Linked DNA regions of Homo sapiens. The protein of the gene in region 4 purifies or fractionates together with the protein of the main gene of each other region. This does not show direct contact. Each region holds a gene or a part of one and is shown on either strand. Other genes may lie near its edges.

Region 1 (3,500 bases), on a different chromosome or scaffold from region 4:
GAGAACATATTTATTACCTAGGCCGTGAAGGCATCTGGTTTTTAGACTACCTAGGGTGTAATTAAGATGAAAACAGATTGATGGAGCATGCACCCAGGAGGAGCAGGCATGATTTAAAACCAGCTTTCTCAGGTCTTCTACCCCAAGCAGCCTCCCCACTTCTTTCCTCTTCTTTTATAAAGGAAGTTAAGTTTTTGCCTTAGTGCAGTTTTTCAGAAGTACTTGTTTGTGGGAGAGCATTCTGCTCTGTGATGCCCAGGCTCCTTGACCCTGTGGAAGTGAGGCATGGGGAGTCCTTGAGAGCAGGTGCCCAGAGAGGTGTGTCAAGCTCCATGCCCAGCCCTGGGCCACAGGCGCTGGCCTCAGCCAAGGTTCTTAAACCTTGGGATGGGATGGCTGGGCAGGCAGGAAAAGGCACCAGCCAGTGTTACTGGGGTTTCTTTGTGGGTTCTGGGGGCATCATCTGGCTGATAGACGATGGGTAGGGTAGGGAAATGGCTTCAGTGTAAGATGGGAGCTGATGCCCTTCCTTGGGACATCTGGGATGGGCTGTGTGGACTTTGGTTCTGTTCCCCTCCAAGGGCCAGTTACAAGGCCAGCAAGAGCCCCCGTCAGTCCCACTAGCTCACTCACTAGCACGTGTTCTGGGGGTGCCGCCTTCTTCATTTCTAGGCCTTCCCAAGGGACGCGCCTGAGCAGGCCAGGCTTTTGTCTCTGCAGGAGGTCAGCACCTCCCCTGTCTTCAGCTGGGACCCAGCACTGTGTGTACCAACACTATGTGTACCAGCCCCGTGCTGGGCACCCAGGAGGCGAGTACTCCGATCATCTTCATCCTGAGGAAGAGTAAAGTGAGGCCCAGGATCCCTAACTGACGAGGCCATGTAGCCGACACGTGGCACCGCGGCCCGAGTCTTCATGACCCACCCCGCCGCTTGCCCATGAAGGGCCAGCTCAGGCCAGAGATGCTGCTGGTGGCTCAGCTGTCCTTCCACAGCGGCTGGCGCTGGCACAGCAAATCCTGGGCCAGCTAGCTCAACAACTCACTGCCTTTGCTGATGCAGAAAACAGACCAGAACCACACTCATTCTTTAGAAATAGTCCCAAAGGAACCAGAATAGTTCCCCTAAATCTGGAAGAGGTGTGACCTCTGCTGCTGCTGTTGTGTTGCAGAGAAAAGCAGCATCAACTCAACTCGGTGCTGCTTTGGGGAGGGGTGTCTGTCACGAAGAATAAAAGTGGTATTTCTATTGATTCTTGCACATTTACCACTGTCCCTGTAGCATCTATTGATTATATCTTAGGTGCAAAGTGCCCTCTGTTGTCATTAAGGCCTGTCTGAGCCAGTGAAGGACTGAAGGACTTAGCTGGCCTTTGGGTATCAGCTCTGAGGGAGAGAGAAGAGCTGAACCCTGTGTTCCTCAAGGGCCTTACATTCACCCCTGCCTGGAAAAGCCCACAGCTCCGTGGAGTGGCTCCCAGCATTCAGAAGGGGCTTAGTGAGCTGCTGAAGGGTGCTTTGTGTCTTGAAAGCTGGCTGATTGCTCATTTGCCCTCCGAATCCAATGACACGAATCTCTCTTGAGCAAAGTCAGCTCCTGGGGCGGCCTCCTGGCCCTTCCGTTCCTTTCCTGTCACCTGGCCAAGGGGCCAAACCAGCCTTTCGTTCCTCCATAGCAGAGGGAGAGAACCTGTGTGACTCTGAAGGGAAGCTGTGCCACGAGGGGAGTCCCAGTGCCCTTTTTGTCCGACGTCGAGGCCGGTGCACAGGCCGGAGGCTGCCCGGATATGGTGTAGTTTGTCTCCAGGATGGCGGAGTTTCCAAGTGTTCGTTTAGAGATGACACTAATAGATAACGGTTCCCTTTGATGGAGAGCTTGTAGAACATTCTCAGAATTGCTAGGAGTCGTTAATTTGGGCTCTGGGAGATGCTCTGGGCTGGCTGGGAGTCGGCCACACCATTTTCAGCCTCATTTATCATGGGTTTGTGTTTTTCTTCATTAGATCACAACAACTTTCCCCAAGGATCCAGTTTACACTTTTTCTATTTCGCAAAATCCATTTCCTATTGAAAACCGGGATGTATTGGGTGAGACACAGGTGAGCTCTTTGTCTTTAGAAACATAATTTAAGGTAACTGCTGATTGTTATCTAGTGTCAGTATTGTTTTTCCAGAAAACATCAAGCTTTCAAATGCTCCCGATTCATTCTTGTGACAGGCCAGCTAGGGCCTACTGTGGGGCACTGCTGGTCACGTGGACGCCCTTCCCATGGCTAGGTGATGGACGGCCACAAAGGCTAATCCCCTGACGTCCTGACTGGCCACATCTTCAGTGGACCTCGTAATTTTCCCAAATGTGTTGCTTTGTGTCTTCTGCCAGCAGCCTCGTCACTGTTGGTTTGGCCTGGCCCCTGCCTGGTCACCTGCTGCCCTTCTTAGGCACCTTGGGGCTGTGTGGCCCCTCTCGGCCTGGCCTCGGCTTTCCCGTGTGTAGTGTTGATCTGCTGCTTAGCGTGGCTCCCGTGTTGGCCTCTGCTCTCACTGGCAGATCAGGCCAGGTCCGATTTGCTGTCACGCCTGCATACTGTGTAGACAGGCTGTGTACACATGGTTGTTCTTAAATCATAACTTGCTAACAGACATTTCAGAAGGTGGTCAAAGAATGTCTATAATGAGGTTTTCTTCAGTGGCTGACAAAGCTTCTTCTATGCTTTGATCCCCTCAGTGCCCATCCGCCCAGGGGACTTGGGGTGCTCACAGAGGTGCAAAGCCAGTTATTGGGGTGCACTCTTGAAGCTCTGTGTTTGGTTCTGCTGAAGATGTCCGTGCTGCATCACGGCTGCCCTGCACATTCCTCCCTCTTGCTGCCCTAGATGGAGAATACAGCTCGACAGGAAAAGTCAGACCTGTCTCCCTGCCGTGAAGGGGGCCCCAGGCCCCTCCCGCAGCCCACTCTCCACCGGGGGACCAGGGCGCATTTCCATGTTTGTGTCTCTGTCTGAGTCAGCCTTTTTTTTTTTTTTTTTTTTTTTTTGGAAGACAGAGTCTCACTCTATCACCCAGGCTGGAGTGCAGTGGTGCGATCTTGGCTCACTACAACCTCCACCTCCTGGGTTCAAGCGATTCTTCTGCTTCAGCCTCCTGAGTAGCTGGGATTATAGGTGCGCGCCACCAAGCCTGGGTAATTTTTTTTGTATTTTTAGTAGAGACGGGGTTTCGCCATGTTGGCCAGACTGGTCTCGAACTCCTGACCACCTGCCTGCCTCGGCCTCCTAAAAAGTGCTGGAATTACTGTGTTAGCCTCCACACCTGGCCAGTCTGAGTCAGCTTTATAAGCATGTCTCCTTGCACATCTGGGTAGTCAGGTGTGCTGAGAGCATCTTCTTGGGAGAAGAGAGCAAGAGCTTGCTTTGCAGCTGCCTGCTCCTCTTTCTTGGACCCTGTTCGTGGTTGCAGAGGCAGAGGGAGAGGTGTCTCAGCATTCAGTGTATTGAGTTGCGTC
Region 2 (3,454 bases), on a different chromosome or scaffold from region 4:
GAGGAGGTAGGGCAGGAGACTTGAGGAAGGAAGGGACCCAAGGTGGGGCAGGATGAGCTCTTCTCTTAGCGTTCAAGGCACATGCCAGAACCCAAGGTGTCAGTTACCACTCCCCAGCCCCGTGTGCCCCTCCACAGGTGCTGCAGGTGAATAGTTTGATCCAGACTCAGAAGAGTGCGGAGCTGGCTGCGGCCCTGCTATCCATCTATATGGAGCGGGCAGAGGACCTCCCGGTGAGATCCCGCTCCCCATGCCCCATAACTTCCTGGCCCTTCTTCCACCTTCCTCCGGTTTGGATGGTCCTGGAGTATTTAGAATAAGAAAAATGGCCCCTCTCTTTCTGAGGGTAGTGCAGGGGTGGGAAAAGTTGTCTGTTCAAGGCCACGGGTAGTGGCTGCCAAGTAATAATGGAGACATGGCTGCTGGCTGTGGATATAATTTGTGAGGGGGATCTGCCTAACTAGGTCCAAATTTAAGACTAACACAGTATTGTCTTTCTAGCTGCGAAAAGGCACCAAGCACCTCAGCCCTTATGCTACTCTCACTGTGGGAGATAGTTCTCATAAAACCAAGGTATGAAGAAATGCTGCAGGGTAAAAATGGGAGGGATAAGAGAAATAAGAGTATCAGCTACTGATCATAAGCCCTCATCTCCACCAGACTATTTCGCAAACTTCAGCCCCTGTCTGGGATGAGAGTGCCTCCTTTCTCATCAGGAAACCACACACTGAGAGCCTAGAGTTGCAGGTACTGTAAATTCATTCTTCAAATATTTAGCAGATTTCTGCCATGGCCAGGCAGGAAACCAGGCACAGAGCATTCAGAGATGAGATAAAAGGTTGACTTTTTTTTTTTTTTTTGAGACAGAGTCTTGCTCTGTCGCCCAGGCTGGAGTGCAGTGGTGCTATCTTGGCTCACTGCAAGCTCCGCCTCCTGGGTTCACACCATTCTCCTGCCTCAGCCTCCCAAGTAGCTGGGACTACAGGTGCCCGCCACCACACCTGGCTAATTTTTGCATTTTTTTTAGTAGAGATGGAGTTTCACCATGTTAGCCAGGCTGGTCTCGAACTCCTGACCTCAGGTGATCCGCCCACCTCGGCCTCCCAAAGTGCTGGAAATACAGGTGTGAGCCACCGCACCCGGCCAAAAGATTGACTTCTTATCTTTATGGAGCTCACACTCTGTTTTGGGAGAAAAATAACCAGATGAAACTTTCAGAATGATAACTGAGGTAAAAGGCACTGTGGGGAAGAAAGGAAGGGTTCAGGCTGGGGAAAGGCTGGAGATAGAAAGGCATCCTTAGATGACCCCTGAGCTTGAGGGTAGATTTTTTTTTTTTTTTTTTGAGACTAGAGTCTCACTCTTATTGCCCAGGCTAGAGTGCAGTGGCGCAATCTCAGCTCACTGCAACCTCAGCCTTCCAGGTTCAAGCGATTCTCCTGCCTCAGCCTCCCGCGTACCTGGGATTACATGCGCGTGCCACCATACCCCACCAATTTTTAGTAGAGACGGGGTTTTGCCATGTTGGCCAGGCTGGTCTTGAACTCCTGACCTCAGGTTATCCATCCACCTCAGCCTCCCAAAGTGCTGGGATTATAGGTGTGAGCCACTGCACCCGGCCTTTTTTTTTTTAGACAGGGTCTTACTCTGTCGCCCAGGCTGGAGTGCCGTGGTGCAATCAGGGCTCACTACAGCCTCAACTCTTGGGCTCTAGCAATCCTCCTACCTCAGCTGGGATAACAGGTGCACACTACCACACCTAGCTAATTTTTGTATTTTTTTGTGGAGATGAGGTTTTACCATGTCATCCAGGCTGGTCTCGAACTCCTGGACTCAAGCATTCTGCCCGCCTCGGCATCCCAAAGTGCTGGGATTACAAGCGTGAGAACCGCGCCCCAGCCTAAGGGTAGATTTACTGGTTCTTTCGGACCACGAAAAGAAGAGCAGGAAAACTCTTTAGGCTGAGAAAAAAAATGGAGGAGAGAGAAGGCATATTTATTATAGATCAGAGAGGCAGGCAGAGCAAGATCATAGGAGCTGTTGAATAGTATGCTAGAAATATGGATTTTATCCTAAGGCTTAGGGAAGCCTTTGTTTATTTTATTTATTATTTTTTTGAAACAGAGTCTTGCTCTGTTGCCCAGGCTGGAGTACAGTGATACGATCTCAGCTCACTGCAACCTCCCTCCTGGGTTCAATCGATTCTCCTGCCTCAGCCTCCCGAGTAGATGGGATTATAGGTGCCCGCCACCACGCCCAGCTAATTTTTGTATTTTTAAGAGAGACGGGGTTTCACCATGTTGGTCAGGCTGGTCTCTAAGTCCTGACCTCAAGTGATCCACTGCCTCGGCCTCCCAAAGTGCTGGAATTACAGGCGTCAGCCACCACACCCAGTCAGGGAAGCCTTTAATGAGAGGTCACATATCCAGATTTGCATTTTGGGAAGATCATAGGGATAAGAGGGTAAAGAATGGACTGGAGAGGGACAACACTGGGGGCAGGGAGATCAGTGAGGAGACTGTTAGAGCAGTCAAAGCAGGAAACGACTAAAGCCTGATGGGATTTGAAGATTGCTGTGATATGGAGCAGGTGGAGGAGCAAGGAACAGCCTAGACACTAACTCTGGGGTTTTTGGCACAGGGTGGCTAGATGGATAAGGGTGCCGTTGCTGACTTAGGGAGTGCACAGAGAGGGAATTTTGGAATTTGAGATCTCTGCAGGACATCCAAGAGAAGACATGCAGAAAACAAATCTATTGTCCATGAGGTGTTCCTCCCTTGCCCTCTTATTGGAACATCATGAGCAAGCAACCACTCATAAGTGTAGTCATGGGTGAGATCTCTTAGGCAGCGTGGAGAGTGAGGAGACAAAAGATGGCCATGAGCCATCTTACAGGTGTGAACCACTGTGCCCGGCTGAAATTAATAGAATTTAAAATAATGTAACTTAATGCTAGCAGAGTAGAAAGGAGGTACAAATGAGCTCAGTTCTTCATCTTTTATAGCAGGGAATCAATAGATACAAGCATATTAGAATTCCGTGAGAACAAAGAAAACAGGAGGGTTTTAAAGGTTGTTACATTTGGAATATGGCAATAGGAGTAGGATGGGCAAGAAACATTTACTTTTAGTTCTGTTTTTACTGTTGTTTTCTGTATGCTGTAGGTATTACTGGTATAATTTCTGAAAGCTAGGTTGGGCGCGGTGGCTCACGCCTGTAATCCCAGCACTTTGGGAGGCCAAGGCGGGCAGATCACAAGGTCAGGAGATCGAGACCATCCTGGCTAACACGGTGAAACCCTGTCTCTATTAAAAATACAAAAAATTAGCCGGGTGTGGTGGCGGACACCTGTAGTCCCAGCTACTTGGGAGGCTGAGGCAGGAGAATGGCGTGAACCCAGGAGGCGGAGCTTGCAGTGAGCTGAGATTGCGCCACTGCACTCCAGCCTGGGCAA
Region 3 (3,500 bases), on a different chromosome or scaffold from region 4:
GTATAATAAAATAAAAAATAAAAATAAATTTTTTCCATCCTAATATTGACTTCAGTCTTAAATTTAAGTTTTGTATTTTAAGAGTCATACTTTTAACTACTATTCTTCCAGAGAATTTTTCTTAAGGGGATCTCTTCCTGTATCCCTCTCAGGCATAAGGTAATGTACTTAGGGTGAAACATAAGGTTTTCTTTTTCTGTTTGGCTTGACTTGACTTTTTTACTGTTTTTATCAAGAAAACACTTGGTAGACGGGACTCGAGTGATGATTGGGAGATTCCTGATGGGCAGATTACAGTGGGACAAAGAATTGGATCTGGATCATTTGGAACAGTCTACAAGGGAAAGTGGCATGGTAAGTATGTAATGTGGTGACATTGTGACAAGTCATAATAGGATATGTTTAACAACTTTTATTTTGTAAAAAATATCATCAAAGGAAATATTCACTGTTCGCATCAATAAACTATTTTGATTAGTTTCAGGACTCCTCCAAAAGTTTCTAACAAAAATTATGGGAAATAAAAACTGTTCACAGCAGTCGGGACTCCTACCATTTTATTACAGTAATAATTTTTAAAGGGGAATTCCTCCAGGTTAACTAGTCCTCAAAAGGATTTTATTTTCTTTTAGAGTCTTTCAGCTGATAATTTTATTTGTATTATAAGTCACAAGTAAACATATTAAAAATGTACTTAATGGCTGGGCGCAGTGGCTTATGCCTGTAATCCCAGCACTTTGGGAAGCTGAGGCTGGCTGATCACGAGGTCAGGAGATCAAGACCATACTGGCCAACATGGTGAAACCCCATCTCTACTAAAAATACAAAAATTAGCTGGGTGTGGAAGCACGTGCCTGTAGTCCCAGCTACTTGGGAGGCTGAGGCAGGAGAATCACTGGAACCCAGGAGGCGGAGGTTGCAGTGAGCTGAGATTACGCCACTGCACTCCACCCTGGTGACAGTGAGACTCCGTCTCAAAAAAAAAAAATTAACAAAGAAATATAAGTGGCCAGTAAACATATACAAAATGTTCAGCCTTACTAGTTATCAAAGAATTGCAAATTCAAAAAATAGACATCATTATTTGCCTCTTAGTTGGACAAAATCTTTTTAAATTGGATTATATTAAGAGTAGTGGATGTATTTTCATCAAAGGTTTAATATCAATGAAAAGTGAAAGTGAACATGTATCCAACTAATAGAGAATTGGATAAATTTATACCATCATATGTGATTATATAGGAGTTAAAATGGCATGGTAGAGGTACATTTATTGATGTAGAAAGGTGTCTTTGGTATATGAAATTTTTCAAAGCAGTATGTGTAAGATACCATATTATGGAGCTCATAGAAATATATAACATAATTTTTTATATGACAGTATTTTAGGCCAGGCACAGTGGCTCACGCCTGTAATCCCAGCACTTTGGGAGGCCGAGGCAGGTGGATCACCCAAGGTCAGGAGTTCGAGACCAGCTTGGCCAACATAGTGAAACCTCATCTCTACTAAAAATACAAAAAATTAGCCAGGCTTGGTGGTGGGCGCCTGTAATCTCAGCTACTCAGGAGGCTGAGGCAGGAGAATTGCTTGAACCTAGGAGGTGGAGGTTGCAGTGAGCCGAGATCCCGCCATTGCACTCCAACCTGGATAACAGCGAGACTGTCTTAAAAAAAAAAAAAAAAAAGACTGTGTTTTAGTTTTTATCTCCTTAATCTATCTTTTCACAGGTGTTCATAAATATTCACACTAAATTCATGTAAAAGCCTAATAACATATAATGTCACTTTTGAGTGACATAATTAAGGGAATTTTTTTATACCTTCAAAATGTCTTTAAACTTTTCTTAAGTGCTGTACAGTATTTTATGATACAAACAGTAGAATAAGCACTGTATTACTTTGATAATTGAGGAAAATCAATGTTGATTTAACTTATTAAAATATACATACAGGTTGAGTATCTTTATTTATTTATTTTTGTTTGTTTTGTTTTGTTTTGAGACAAGGTCTCGCTCTGTCGCCCAGGCTGGAGTGCAGTGGCACAATCTCAACTCACTACAACCTCTGCCTCCCAGATTCAAGCAGTTCTCCTACCTCAGCCTCCTGAGTAGCTAGGATTATAGGCGCGTACCACCACCCCTGGCTAATTTTTGTATTTTGAGTAGAGACGAGTTTTGCCATGTTGGCCAGGCTGTTCTCAAACTCCTGACCTCAGGTGAGCCACCCACCTTGGCCTTCCAAAGTGCTGGGATTACAGGTGTGAGGCAGCACACCTGGCCAGGTTGGGTATCTTTAATCCAAAATCCCAAACCCGAAATGCTCCAAAATCCAAAACTTTCTGAGTGCTGACATGATGCTCAAAGGAAATGCTTATTGGAGGATTTCATATGTTTGGATTAGGGATGTTAAACTGGTAAGTATAATCAAAATATTCCAAAATCAGAAAAAATTTGAAATTTGAGACACTTCTGGTCCCAGGCATTTTGGATAAGGGATACTCAGCCTGTGTATAAAAGTGCACATAAATTAGCCAGGCATGGTGGCATGTGCCTGTACTCCCAGCTATTGAGGAGGCTGAGGTGGGAGAATGGCTTGAGCCCAGGAGTTCAAGGCTGCAGTGAGCCATGATCACACCACTGCACTCCATCCAGCCTAGGTGACAGAGCAAGACTCTGTCTCTAAAAAAATTAAATAAACAGAACATTACTAGCACTCTAGAAACACCCTCCCATGTCCTCTTCTAGCCAATCACCTCTCTCCCAAGGGTAACCACCACTGTGATTACAACAGGAAGTGCATAGTGTGTACTCTTTTGTGTCGGCCCTTTTCACTCAACATTGTTTATAAGATTCATCTATATTGTTGTGTGAAGTTGGAGGTCATTCATTCTCTTTACAGTATTTCATTGTGTGACTATAACATGATTTCTTCTTTCATCTGTTGCAATTGGATCGTTTCCAGTTTGGGGCTTTGATTGATGCTGGTGCTGTAAACATTTTTAGTGTATGTCTTTTGGTGAACATGTAACCATTGATGGGTATATATACCTAGGACAGAATTGTGAGACCACAGGGTATGCATATGTCCAGTTTTAGTAATGCTGCCAACAATGTTACAAAGTAGTTGTACCAATTTAAACACCTACTGGCAGTGTTGACGTTACAGCTGTTTCACATAAAGTTTTTTTTTTTTGATGATTTTAATAAAATATCATTTTCTTTTTTTATTATTATTATACTTTTAAGTTTTAGGGTACATGTGCAAAGTGTGCAGGTTAGTTACATATATATACATGTGCCATGCTGGTGTGCTGCACCCATTAACTCACATGAAGTTTTTTTTAAATTTTAGTGACAGTTTTAGTCATTTTCCTAATTGAAAGTATCATAAGTAATCCATAAATTTGAAAAAAATGTTAACTACTCTGATAAAAAAGTTTTATAGTTTCCTACTTTTAAGCAAAATTCCATAGGGCCTGGTAATTGTAGTTTCAACATTAC
Region 4 (3,500 bases):
CTGAGGAGACTTCCCCCCGGGACAGCACCTGCAGTGATACCAGCCCCCCTGCCCGGGAAGAGGGTATGATCGAGAGGAAACGGGCAGGTGAGATTAGGGGTTGGGAAGGAAAATCCCTTTTCCCCCAGTGGCCTAGGGAGTTTCCAAATGGACCTCAGACCTTGGGATTTGGCATGTGTTTTGTGTGGGGCTTCCCTAAGCATAAAGATGTGCCTTTATGAGGGCAAAGTGTTGAGGCCGAATTTCTCTGTCCTCTGGCTGGGTCTCCGATAGCTTCCCGAACATCAGATCTTTGGAGTGAGTATTCCACCCAGGGTAGGGTGTGATGGGCAGTACATGGGGCTGTATATTAGATGCCCTGGTTTTAAATCCAATCTTGGCCACTGTGCTGTGTGCCCTGAGGCCAGTCACTCACCCTCTCTAGGCACCTGTAAAATGGGAATAATATCATATCCTACCCTCAAGACTTTGAGAGACCCAAATGAATGACAGATATGAAAGTACTTTGGGAAGTCAGAACCACATTACAAATGTCAGGTACTGTCAATATTAGCCAGTGAGCAGGGCAGCTGTTCTTCCAAGGTACATCAACACATGAATCACTTCTTTGCAAACGTTCGAGTCTGGTATCTTGGCCTAATAAATGTGATAACGTAATAGCAGTGGGAGGCTGCCTTCTGTTCAGCACAAGCTAGATTGAGTCCTGGGCTCAGGGTTTGACATGGGATGGAAAGGAACTGAGGAAGGAGTGGCCCAGACAGTGTTGGGAAGGGGAGGAACATGGAAGAAACTGATATCTGTGCCCTGGAAGGGGAGAGCCTGGGCATCTGAATCCTGTCCCTCAAGGATGGGAAAGGCCATCCCAAGAAAGCTCATCTCCGCCCCTGAATCAGGAGTTGGGAAATGGAAAACTGCTTAATCCCCAGCAATGTGAACTTCGGTTGGAGAGAGGGAAAGGCATCCTGACTGTTATGTGTAGGCTGGGCTCCTGGGAAAGGTATGGAATTCCTGGTATGGGGAGGTGGACTGGAGCCAGGAGACTAAGGCTAAGCTCTGGGGCAAAGTGGGACTGACCCTGCAGGAGAGGCGCCTAGCTTGGGACACTCACCTATGGCCTTTGGCATGTGCCTATCATACATGCCCGGGTCCACTCATTCCCGGGGGTCATGTCAGGGGCCTGGGTCTTCCGAAGGCCTTGATAGAAGAGCATCCATCAGGCTTCCCATTTCTCCCCCACCAAAGTGGCACTGCTTCCTAATTTGTGAATATTAATTTCCCGGGGAATTTCAGCTGCACTCTGAGGCCCATTCAGGGTATAAAGAGAATCCCAGTATTAAAACGTAGAAGTCCTTAGGTCAGCTCCTCAAGGTACACTTAACTGTGGCCCTATCAGCCTTGCCCTTAGCCTGACCCTGAGAGCAGCCACAGTAAGGGCATGCCTGGCCAATGGCAGGGCCACTGTCTTCAGATAGAGTAGCACCCCCTTCTCCAGATCCAAGGGCCCAGCTTCACCTGTGCTACTGCCTGACAGAGGCAAGGGGTGGAGACTAAGCCCACAGCACTTGAGAGCTGCGTCGGAGCTTTTCTCATGGTATCCTCCCCAGACAAAGGTCAGCCCTAATTGCGGAGGGCTCTAGGTCTTTTGGGCACAGGACTCTGGCCTAGATGCCTAGTGAACAAGAATTACTGTCACCCAGGGAGAAAGCATGGACGCCACTTTATAGGTTTAACCCTTGCCGTGCCACCCCTCACCGCTAGCAAGCCAGGTATTCTCCACGGGAAAGCAGACTCATCCAAGAGTCAGCCTGAGCCAGACCCAAGGAGGAAGTAGAGTCTGCGGACTGCTTTGGGCTGATCTCCTGGGGCAGCCGTCAGCAGGCAGATTTGGGGAGTCACTGCTGTAGGGCATCTGCACTGTGGCTTCATCCCTGAGGAGAGACCCTAAGCTGAGGCTGGGAGGGAAGTCAGTCTTCACACCAAGTGTAGCATCCCTGCCTTTTGCCCTCTGCTCCCCGGCTCTGGCAATGCTGCCTCTCAGGTAGATGCTAGGCCCCTCCCAAGGTTGAGGAAGTAACACTCTGGGTCTGGGAGACCCCAGATGACCCATGAGCAAGGCTCAGGTCGCCCCTCATGCAGCCTCCTTTCTGTGTGCCCCCTTCAGACTCTAAGCAGAATGGCGATGCCAACGCAGTGCTGTCTGATGAGGAGGGAGCTGGCCTCACCCAACCCCTGGCCTCCTCCCCGACCCCCGAGGAGCGCCGGGCCCTGCGACGCTCCACCACTCGAGACAGAAACAAGAAGGCAGCTGCCTGCTTCCTGCTCAGCACTGGGGACTATGCCTGCGCCGATGGTAGTGTCCGGAAAGGTATGGCTTCCCAAGCTGGACAGGTGGGGAGCCCCCACAGAGCTGAGTCTCCCGAGTCCCCCACCAAGAGCCTGAGGTCCCCCCCTCCCCTGAGACCGTGGCCGCCATCTCCTCTGCCTTGGATGCACCCCCACTTTTAGAATGGGTACCTGATCTCCCAGTCCCTGGATTAGAAAGGTCTTCTCCATCTCAGAAGGGCACACGGCTCCCATCCAGCTGCCCATGGGAAAGAGCAGCGCTAGAGGGTAAAGGGTGCACAAGGCCAGGGTCCCTGCCCCGTGCTTCCATTGCATCTCTTTTTCTACCTCTGGTTCCCGCTGCTGCCTTCAGGCCCCATTCCACAGGGTCACTGCCAGCCTCTCCCTAGGCCTCCCTTAAACACAGCTAAGGCTTCCCAAGTAGGTGACCCCTCGAGGTGCCAACAACGTTCAAGAGTCAGGGAGCCCCACACAGGCCCTGCATCCTCCCATCCTGCGCCAGGGGTCCTGGAGCACAGGATGGGCAGACTTCCGTCTGCAAGCACCTAGAGGGTGACTGTCCTCTTGAGGCAGTGCCAGAGATGACCAAGGGGTGGGATAGGTGGGCAGGAAGAGTGGGTCCCATCTGAGGAATGTTCTGAGTATTTGGAGAGAGAGGGAGCAGCCCATCCTCTGCTTGTCGGAAAAGGCTGAAATTCCATCCCCAGGCCCCAAGCCTGCGGCAAGGCAAGGGCAGAGGTTGGGCTGTGGAGCTAGGGATTCCTGGCCTCGGAAAGCGGGTAGGAATGATCAAGGATGGTGGAGGGCCCGCGGTGGCTGAGAACCAGGGGTCTTAGGACCAGGCCCTCCTACCCAGTTTTCGATCACTTATTCGTCTCTCTTGCCCTGTCCCTGTTACCTAACCTCACTCAATGTTCTACCTCTTTCTAGAATAAACCCTGACTCCCTCCAAAACAGAGCTCTTCCCCAGGTTCTCTGCCACTTCTTAACCAGCTGGATTTCCCATCCCCCACTTCCCTCTGTCCCCAAACCCCAGACCCAAACTAGGTTGAGTGAGGAAGGGGCAGTGGCAGCTACAGGAATAGCCTGTGATGCCTCTGTCCCTCTGAAGATGTCCCAATGTCCCGTGGCCTGCCAGCCCATGCAGGCTCTGTGGG

The links. The genes of interacting proteins can lie anywhere in the genome.
Region 1: the proteins of KCNC4 (region 4) and NPLOC4 purify together in Homo sapiens (affinity purification with mass spectrometry; 2 studies listed by BioGRID and IntAct, with this or other methods). This does not show direct contact.
Region 2: the proteins of KCNC4 (region 4) and ESYT1 purify together in Homo sapiens (affinity purification with mass spectrometry; 2 studies listed by BioGRID and IntAct, with this or other methods). This does not show direct contact.
Region 3: the proteins of KCNC4 (region 4) and BRAF purify together in Homo sapiens (affinity purification with mass spectrometry; 2 studies listed by BioGRID and IntAct, with this or other methods). This does not show direct contact.

Annotation. Positions count from the first base shown.
Region 1 is NC_000017.11:81,567,613-81,571,112, reverse strand, and holds part of NPLOC4 (nuclear protein localization protein 4 homolog), read left to right. Parts: intron 1-2,001; coding exon 2,002-2,097; intron 2,098-3,500. UniProt on the Homo sapiens protein: The ternary complex containing UFD1, VCP and NPLOC4 binds ubiquitinated proteins and is necessary for the export of misfolded proteins from the ER to the cytoplasm, where they are degraded by the proteasome.
Region 2 is NC_000012.12:56,138,267-56,141,720, forward strand, and holds part of ESYT1 (extended synaptotagmin-1), read left to right. Parts: coding exon 1-6; intron 7-137; coding exon 138-233; intron 234-501; coding exon 502-573; intron 574-660; coding exon 661-747; intron 748-3,454. UniProt on the Homo sapiens protein: Binds calcium (via the C2 domains) and translocates to sites of contact between the endoplasmic reticulum and the cell membrane in response to increased cytosolic calcium levels.
Region 3 is NC_000007.14:140,778,430-140,781,929, reverse strand, and holds part of BRAF (serine/threonine-protein kinase B-raf), read left to right. Parts: intron 1-236; coding exon 237-354; intron 355-3,500. UniProt on the Homo sapiens protein: Protein kinase involved in the transduction of mitogenic signals from the cell membrane to the nucleus. Phosphorylates MAP2K1, and thereby activates the MAP kinase signal transduction pathway. Phosphorylates PFKFB2.
Region 4 is NC_000001.11:110,223,814-110,227,313, forward strand, and holds part of KCNC4 (voltage-gated potassium channel KCNC4), read left to right. Parts: coding exon 1-87; intron 88-2,161; coding exon 2,162-2,365; intron 2,366-3,500. UniProt on the Homo sapiens protein: Voltage-gated potassium channel that opens in response to the voltage difference across the membrane, forming a potassium-selective channel through which potassium ions pass in accordance with their electrochemical gradient.